Regions from separate parts of the Homo sapiens genome. Here region 2 is linked to region 1. Evidence: fine-mapped expression QTL. A gene starts in region 1. The other region holds a variant in brackets. All regions are shown on one strand. Distances are from middle to middle.

Region 1 (4,386 bases):
CTGGAGGCTGATAACCAGCTGCTTTTCCTTTGCCTGCAAAAGCCCCACACCTGGTATAATGTTCTCAGTCCCCAGATGAGACCACAGTTCACAGCTGCCCAGAAGCAGCCTGCCCCAATTCAAAACTCTATCGGGATTTGAGAGAACAAAAAGGAAAATACTAAACAGCCAGACTGGCCCCTACTCTGAGGAAACAAGCAGGGAGAGAGGAAAAGCCCAAACAGCTGGCAGAACATAAAGGCAGCCCATGCAGGAAAGGCCCCACCAACTCCTGGGCACCTTCTGCCTGGAGACCATGTCCCCCAGGGACAAATCCCTGCCCTAGAGGAGTTTATGCTCCAGTGGGTCGTGGGAGGGGAGGTGCAATGACAACTATAACATTGACAACGGAAAATATTTATTTAGTGCTCGCTCTGTGCCAACCTTGCTCTAACTCACCTAATTTTCATGCCATGTGAAGTAGGTGGTATTATTTTCCTCATTCAGGAGGAAATGAAGGCACAGAGAGGTTAAGTGACTTACTCAAAGTCATACAGCTGGTAGATGGTAGAGCCAGGATTTGAACCCAGAAGCTGAAAACTTCTCCATCCCCATGCTGAGGACTCACACGCATTCCTCCTGCAAGAGATAAGGTTTACCCAGTTTACAGATCAGGGTGTGGAGGCCCAGAGAGGCACAGCTGCCCACCCTAGGTCTCGTGGCCAGCTGTCGGGGAGCGAGATCTAGGGTTAGCCTCCTGGCACTCCAACCTCCTCTCCCCACTGCCTCCTCTCCACATCCCCACTCCAGCAGCCCCAGGACAATCTGCCCCAGGACATGACAACTTCTCATTACTGTTACAAGCAACCAAGCCAGGGCCATCCTGGGGCATACCACTTTCCCCTGGCCCTGAGGGAGAAGAGAGGACAGGAAGCAACTCCCAGCTGGGTTGCTCACTTGCCCCACCTTGGAAGGATTTTCTGTGTCTCCAGAGGCAAAGTGGATTCGCTGGGCCCTCCCCAGCCTCACCCCTCTGCCTCCTCCCCTCCCTCTGCTCTCTCCGGGGGTCACTTGTACTCCAAGCGCTAACATGGAACCAGAGGGAGGAAGGTGCAGCGGGGAGAGAAGGGGATGGCAGCGGGACTGAAACTTGAGATCTTAGACTTGGGGGGCAGGGGATGGGGGTGGAGGGAAAGAGGGAGACCAAGACAGAGACAGGAAGGGAGAGTTAAGTTGCATTTGGTTTTCCAAAGCGGGCAGCATTGGAGCTTGGCGTTTGTGTGTACATGAATGTGTGTGCGTGTCAGCGTGCGTGTGAGTGTGTGCTCGTGAGTGTGTGCATGAGTGTGTGCGCGTGTCTGTGTGCTGTTTTCTTCCCTCCCCTCCAGCAGGGAAGCCAGGCCTCACTGGATAATCAGAGGGCTCAGAGGTGAGGCAGACAGAGCAAGGTTGGTGCACGCTTAGGGTAAGGGCGACGTGCCACCAAGACTGAGGAAGGAGGAAGGGAAGGAGTGAAGAATAGAGGTGAGAGGGTGTCGGGTGGGGCCGGAGGGAGGCGGTGAGAGGAAGCAAGCAGAGCAGCCGTGGTATTCAGAGCAAGTATAAATAGCTGCCTGGACAGAGCTCGGCCAGACAGAGGTTTGTAGCTGCAGCTGCAGGCAAGCCTGGCCACTGTTGGCTGCAGCAGGACATCCCAGGCACAGCCCCTAGGGCTCTGAGCAGACATCCCTCGCCATTGACACATCTTCAGATGCTCTCCCAGCTAGCCATGCTGCAGGGCAGCCTCCTCCTTGTGGTTGCCACCATGTCTGTGGCTCAACAGACAAGGCAGGAGGCGGATAGGGGCTGCGAGACACTTGTAGTCCAGCACGGCCACTGTAGCTACACCTTCTTGCTGCCCAAGTCTGAGCCCTGCCCTCCGGGGCCTGAGGTCTCCAGGGACTCCAACACCCTCCAGAGAGAATCACTGGCCAACCCACTGCACCTGGGGAAGTTGCCCACCCAGCAGGTGAAACAGCTGGAGCAGGCACTGCAGAACAACACGCAGTGGCTGAAGAAGGTACGGGGCATGGGAGGTTTGCAGGGGGCAGAGGGCGGCTTTGGGGTCTGTCACAATCAGCAGGTGGAGTGTCCATCCAAGAGGCCTTCCCTGAGCACAGAGGGCTGTCTCTGAGCTGCACAAAGAGGGGCAGGGGTGGGTCTGAGGCCACACAGCAAGATTGGGCAATGTCAGCTGGCAACCTGGCTCTTTAACTGCCGTCCCTTCATTCATCCAACAGAAATCCATTCAGCCCTGACCAAGGGCTGAACGGACCAAGCCTTCCTGGGTGCTGGGGATACGACAGTATAGTATGTCTCCCTCTGGACTAGTAGGGGAAAGAGGCAGTAAGAGATAATCTACTATGTCAGATGGTGAAGCAAAATGAAGAAGAAAGAGGGCAAGTGGCGGCCCTGGGTGGCTGCTTGAGGTCAGATCATTAGAGAGTACTTCTCAGAGGAGGTGACATTTGAACCCAGAGAACAAGGGAAATGATAGAGTGGGCCAGGCAGGTATTTGAGGGAACGTTCTGCAAAGGGAGCTGCATGTATTTTGACCGTGAGGAGGGAATGCATCCGCAGCGGTGTGTGCCTGGAGAACCATGGGGCGAAGGCCTGTGTAGCTGGAGCAGAGGAGAGGGAGCAAGGGTGCGGGGAGGTCTGAGAGGTGACAGCAGGGCAGGCCATGCAGCTGGGGGGGGGGCCACTGGAAGGACTTCAGCTTTTGTTCTGAGTGTCATGGGAGCCACTGCAAGGTTGTGAGCAGAGACAGACACCCGTGATTCGATTTCAACAGCATAGACTGTAGGAGGCAGGGTGGAAGGAAGAAGCCCAAAGAGGTGGCCGCTGCAGCCATCAGGTGCAAGGTACCGGAGGCCTGGAGCAGAACGGGGCTAGGAGGGGGTGTGGCCAGTAAGATTCTGGTGGGTTCTGGAGGTAGAGCCCATCAGCTCTGCTGGTGAATTGGATGCGGAGTGGGAGGAAGCAAGGAGCTGAGGATGCCACTGTGGTTTTGGCCCAAGACCAGGGCTGCTGTAGAATGCCCTGTCATGCTTTCGTCTTTCAGCAGTGTGAGCACCTATTGTGTACCCTCGGAGAAGCACTGACTACAGAGGTGTGCAAAGCAGGCTTGGCCCTGGCGGGGCATGAGGGTACAGGAGACATCCTGGGGGGTCTGAGATGGGACTCTTCAGAGTCCCTAAGTGAGAGCTACCAAGGAAAGGGAGAGGGACCCAGGAGACAGTCTGGGCGATGACTGAGGAATGAAGGATGCGAACTAATTCCTGGAGTTTTAGAAGGTATTAAACAGCAGACAAGCTTGACAACCACCTCTGGCTCCAGGCAGGATAGCTGTCCTGGCTGCCCCCCTGGCTCCCTGCTAACACTCGGCCCCCACCTCCTGTTCTCCATGCAGCAGACCAAAGAATCCCCATCAAAACCTAAGTTACATCCTCTCCCTCCTCCCAGGGCTAACCATGCATCCGAATAAAAGCAAGAACCCTTACTCCCTGGAGTTCCCTCTCCCAGACTCCCACTTTGCTTACCCCAGCCTCCTATCCTCTCCAGCGCCATCTCCCCAGAGGCCCTCCTTGTCCTCCCCGTACGAAATAACCACCTTCCTCTTCCACCCTTTGTCCCTCTGCTGGCTTTGTTGTGTTTTTTTTTCTTAGAACTTATCCCTACCTAATGTTCTTAAAAACATTTCTTTTGGTGTGTGAGCTCCCAGAGGGCAGGCGCCATGTCTCTTTTGCTCACTTCTGGGTTCCCAGGGCCTAGAATAGTGCCGAACACACAGTAGGTACTCAATAAATGTCTGTAGCATGAGTGAATGCATGAATGCATAAATGTCCTTCCAATCTCTCAGGTCCCAGGTCTCCATCCTGCTCCGTGATGACACAAAATTGGCATTGATGGGATCCTGAGCCCAAAACCCATGACCTGGATCTCCCCCAACACCTCCCTGAGGGTCCATGGGTGTCTCAACTCCAAAGCTGCCTGAGACGACTCCCTGCTCTTCTCCAAACACCCTCCTCCTGCCTGTCTGTCTCTGTTTAGGGTGACACCACCACCCAGCCACAGGCTGTGCCCTGGGGGCTTCCTGTGGCTCCCACCTATCCCCCAGGCAGCTGGCCCAGCCCATCCTGTGGCCTAGGCTTCTCTCATGGTCCATCTTTCTGGCTTAGGCCTCGTCATCTTTCCCAGGATGCTGTCATCACCTCCCACTGGGCCTCCTACCCCAAGTCTCACCTCTCACTCTCATCCATCTTTGAATCCCCTGGGTGTCGGATGCTTGGGAAACATTGGCTGAGAGCTGATGGCTTGAACTGATGGCTTGCAGGATCAGAAGGTCACCTGGTCCAGTGCCTCAGC
Region 2 (4,386 bases), 20 kb after region 1:
CAGGTCTTGTAAGATGGAGAAATCAAAAGTGCTGTTTTCTGGCCATTTAGAACAATTGTCGAGTTTGTACTGGGGCCTAGCAGTATTGCAGAAGAAAATAAGGCATTTAGGTTTTAGTTCAGGTGTGAGTTGAAGAGGTTTTAAGTTCTTGAGAACACAGGCTAAGGGAGAAGAAGGGGGAATGCAGGGTGGAAGGTTGACCACAGTGAAGAGGTAAGTTTAAAGAGAAAGCTAGAGACACGGAGAAGCGGGCGGTGAGCAGCCCTGGGCTGTAATATGGGTGAGCAGCCAAAGCAGGTGTCCCTGCAATTGACATGCCACCAAGGGAATGTGGGTGAATGACCAAGGCAGGTGTCCCCCCGGTGATCAGACACCAATGGAATGTGGGTGAATGATCAGGGCAGGCATCCCTGCAGTGATTAAACACCAAGGGAAGACTGTCTTCCTGAGTCCATGACCGGTGCTGCAGTTTTGGGTCCATGGATAAAATGTGTCTCCTTTGTCTCTACTAGAGAGAAAAAGGAACCCGAATTGGAAGGACAGGGAGATTGAAGGGTAGTGAGAGAGGCTGAAGAAGAGAGTGAAAAGACCGTTTACTCAATTTGAAATTGGTGAGATGTTCCTTGGGCTGTTTGATCTGAGGATCGGAGGTCATAGGTGGATCTCCTCATGGAATGAGGGCAAGGACAGGGGACCGGTCTCCTGAAGGAGTCCTCCTGTCCCGGGTCTTCAGCACCAAATATCATGCACGTCCATGTGAACCAAACAGGCTTTGTGTGAGCAATAAAGCTTTTTAATCACCTGGGTGCAGGTGGACTGAGTCTGAAAAAGGAGATGGGGTGGGCAGTTTTATAGGATTTGGGTAGGTAGTGGAAAATTACAGTTAAAGGGGGTTGTTCTCTGGCGGGCAGGGGCAGGGGTCACAAGGTGCTTGGTGGGGAGCTACGGAGACTTATTGTCCAGGAGAAGGAATGTCACAAGGTAATGTCATCCGTTAAGGCAGGAACCAGCCATTTTCACTTCTTTTGTGGTTCTCCAGTTGCATCAGGCCATCTGGATGTATACGCGCAGGCTTGGGCTCAGAGTCCTGACACATAGTAAGATATGGCCCAGACATACCAGAATTTATCATGCGTTCATTATGTAACTACAACCAGAGTTATCTCAGGAATGCTCCCTACAACCCAGGGGAAGGAGCTATGATTATCTTCATTTTAGAGAAAAGGCTCAGACACCAGTAGAGGCCCCAGCCTAAGGTCACACAGCCAGTAAGCTAAGAGCTGTGATTCACACACAGCTTCATCCATACAAAGCACTACTCTCTCTGCATTGATTTTTATCTGCAGTTGACAAGATGCATTTCCCAAACAGGAACCTCATGCACCATTTTCCATGGAAGAGAGATAGCTGCAGGGCATATCATTGTTACCATCTTCATTTTGATCCTCAAATACCAGACACGCTCCCACTTCAAGGCCTCTGCACTTGCCTTTTCCTCTGCCTGGAATTCCCTCCCTCCTGACTCTCCCAGACCTTGCTTCTTCTCAGCCTCTCAGCCCAGATGGCCCTCTCTGGTGGGGCTTTCTCCATCATACTGGCTAAACTTGCCTCCAACCCCACATATTACCCTGTCTTATTTTCTTCATAGCATTCATCAAGATTTCAATGCAACTGATATATTTAGTAGAAGTGCCCTGGAATCAGAAACTTTACGAATTTTGCTCATTTCTGATTATCTAATACCTAATACAGGATGAGCACATAGTAGGTGCTCAAGAAATAATTCCTGAATGAACACATGAATGAAACTCAGAGAGGGTGAGGGGGTTCACTGGAGGAGATCTATTTAATGTTACATATGTATATCTGCGGCATTTTATAGAACCTTGTGTTGGGGGCGTTGTTTTTTACTGAGGTATGACCCACGTACAGCAAAATCTACCCTTTTCACATATAGTTCCATGAGTTTTGACAGACATATACAGTTATGTAACCACCAGCAAAATCATGACATAGAACATTGCCAATATCCCAAAAAGCTCCCCTGTGTCCTTTAACAATCAATCCCCACCCCCTCCCCGGACCCAGGCCCTGGCAATCACAGATTCTGACATTTTTAGAGAGTCATACAAATAGACTCCTACAGTATGGAACCATTGGAGTTGCATATTTTTCACTCATGATCCATCTGAGGTTCATCTGTGTGTTTGCACACATCAATGGTTCTTTCCTTTTTATTGCTCAATGGAGTCCACTGCATGGATGGACTGCAGTTTCTCCATTCACCAATTGATGTCCATTTTATATAAATAATGCAGGAGAGAAGCAGGCTTGAGCAGATCTCCTCGGCCACGGAGGCTGCTCATCCA[C/T]GGATCTGCACCTGTTATTTGTCTGAATCACCCCCTCTCCCCCAGCCCCTGCCTGTGAAAATTTCTTTCTTTTCCTTCAAGACCCTTTGCAAATGCCCTCTCCCCAGCAAGGAGCAGGGTGTGCTGACCCATGACCCAGATCTGTAAAGTGGGGCTCAGAGAAACACAGTAGTCTCCAAGGGCCCACAATGAAAGTGTGGCAGAGCCAGAACTCAAACCCAGGGCCAAGGGGATGGGGCAGTAGACCAGGGACCAAAACTCAGTCTCTTTGCCAGCTGGAAGGGTGACAAAAGGTCAGGCCTTTGTACCCCATCATAGGCCTGAGAATTCGGCAGCCTGAGAGTGATGGAGAAGGGGCAGGTCTAATCCTGGAGTCGGTGCACGGCATAGAGAGAAGTAGATCCAAAAAAACAAGAGAAGTAGATCCCACGCTGGGTGAGTTCCTCCACTGGGATCCATTCCCTGCCCTTCCAGCTGGTGCCTCAGCCATGGGCCAGACCTAGCTCCCACCACCCAGGCCAATATTAGTCTCCAGAGCCCAGCCCAGCCTAACTGAGCCCATCTGGCCCAGATTATCCATCCCAGGGCCTGTGCTGGTGGGCGGGTGTGGCAAACTGGGTGATGGGATCCAGCTGTGGGTAACCTTTGCCCTGCCCAGCCACTTGCAACCACAGGACAAGTGGGGGACCAGTGAGGTGCTTGGGGAGCTCCAGTCACTTGAGGGGACCCTGAGCTGCCCTGAATCACCAGCTCAGCTCTGCAGCCCTCAGGCAAGGAGTCTTAGAGCCTAGCCTGCCAGATGGTGACCTTGGGCAAGACTTCTGGGCCTCAGTTTGTCTATGTTCAGGCAAATGAGAAGCTTGGGGAAGATGCCTGGGAAAGTCTCACCTCAGGCATGAATATGCTGTTTGACTACTTGGAGCAGGTGCTCAGTACCTGGATGTCTGCTTTTTAATTTAGGTTCTAGGAGGTCAATGATGCATGAAAAAGTCTGAGACCAAACTCGATACAGCTATATTTGTCCTCATCCATGCTGGTGGGCCCAGCCAGCCACACATTAGAATCTCCTGGGAGCTCACATGCAGTCCATGACTAAGATTTACCACGGACCCCCGGACCAGCCTGCTAGCCCATGCTCTGATGTTAATGACATCGAAGGCACCCCTCCCGAGGAAATCTCAACTGCACCACCCCTACTACTCCCTAATTCAGCAGGAAGCAGTTAGTGCGGTCATCAGCTGACCTCCCCAACAGCACTTGGGTTTTCCTGTTGAGAGGGGGACTGAGAGACAGGGCTAGCTGGATTTCCTAGGCCAACTTAGAATCCCTAAGCCTAGCTGGGAAGGTGACCGCATCCACCTTTAAACACGGGGCTTGCAACTTAGCTCACACCCAACCAATCAGAGAGCTCACTAAAATGCTAATTAGGCAAAAATGGGAGGTAAAGAAATAGCCAATCATCTATTGCCTGAGAGCACAGTGGGAGAGACAAGGATTGGCATATAAACCCAGGCATTCGAGCCAGCAACAGCAACCCCCTTTGGGTCCCCTCCCTTTGTATGGGAGCTCTGTTTTCACTCTATTTCATGCTATTAAATCTTGCAACTGCAAAAAAAAAAAAGAATCTCCTGGGAGCTGACAGAGGGGTTAAAGACAGGAAGGCACAAAAGGCAGACCCATGGAGAGGAGGGCAGCCTGGCCCAGAATAAGGCGAGTAAACAGATTTGAAATCCAAATTGGGATCACAGTGGGCAGTACTTACTAGTGGGTTGAGTGTGGCCGCTAAGAAAAAGAGAAGTTAAGATTGAGGTCTGGGTTTGGGGCTTCAGAACTGGGTGGAGCCATTTCCTGAGATGGGAAAGATTTCGAAGCATGGGGTGGGAGTTACAGGGACAGGGGCGATGGGAGCTGAGGAATGAAGAGTTTCACACTGGGCTTGAGATGCTCATTGGAAACCATGCAGAGATGGCGAGTTGGGGACATGCAGGGGAGAAGTCTGGGTGGGAGATGGTGATGG

Direction of the effects. Alleles are on the strand shown, and positions count from the first base shown. SD is a standard deviation of normalised expression in the study named.
As copies of C replace T in region 2, the expression in subcutaneous fat of the gene that starts at base 1,610 in region 1 goes up (small effect, 0.22 SD a copy in GTEx).

The links. PIP is the estimated chance that this variant, and not a neighbour inherited with it, causes the effect. A credible set is the group of variants that fine-mapping cannot tell apart.
Region 2: its variant is the best candidate, but not a certain one, in a credible set for the expression of ANGPT4 in subcutaneous fat (GTEx, PIP 0.59).

Annotation. Positions count from the first base shown.
Region 1 is chr20:913,558-917,943 of GRCh38, reverse strand. ANGPT4 (angiopoietin 4) reads left to right here and starts at 1,610. Exons shown (of 9, transcript NM_015985.4): 1 at 1,610-2,038. The coding sequence starts at 1,730. It overlaps LOC105372492 (a long non-coding RNA gene), which reads right to left. Exons shown (of 3, transcript XR_937185.3): 1 at 4,264-4,386; 2 at 523-618.
Region 2 is chr20:893,584-897,969 of GRCh38, reverse strand. All of the region lies in intron 1 of ANGPT4 (angiopoietin 4), which reads left to right. Among named protein-coding and RNA genes, the nearest start is that of ANGPT4, 21 kb to the left of the region's middle. The variant C/T (reference allele first, on the strand shown) is at 2,370.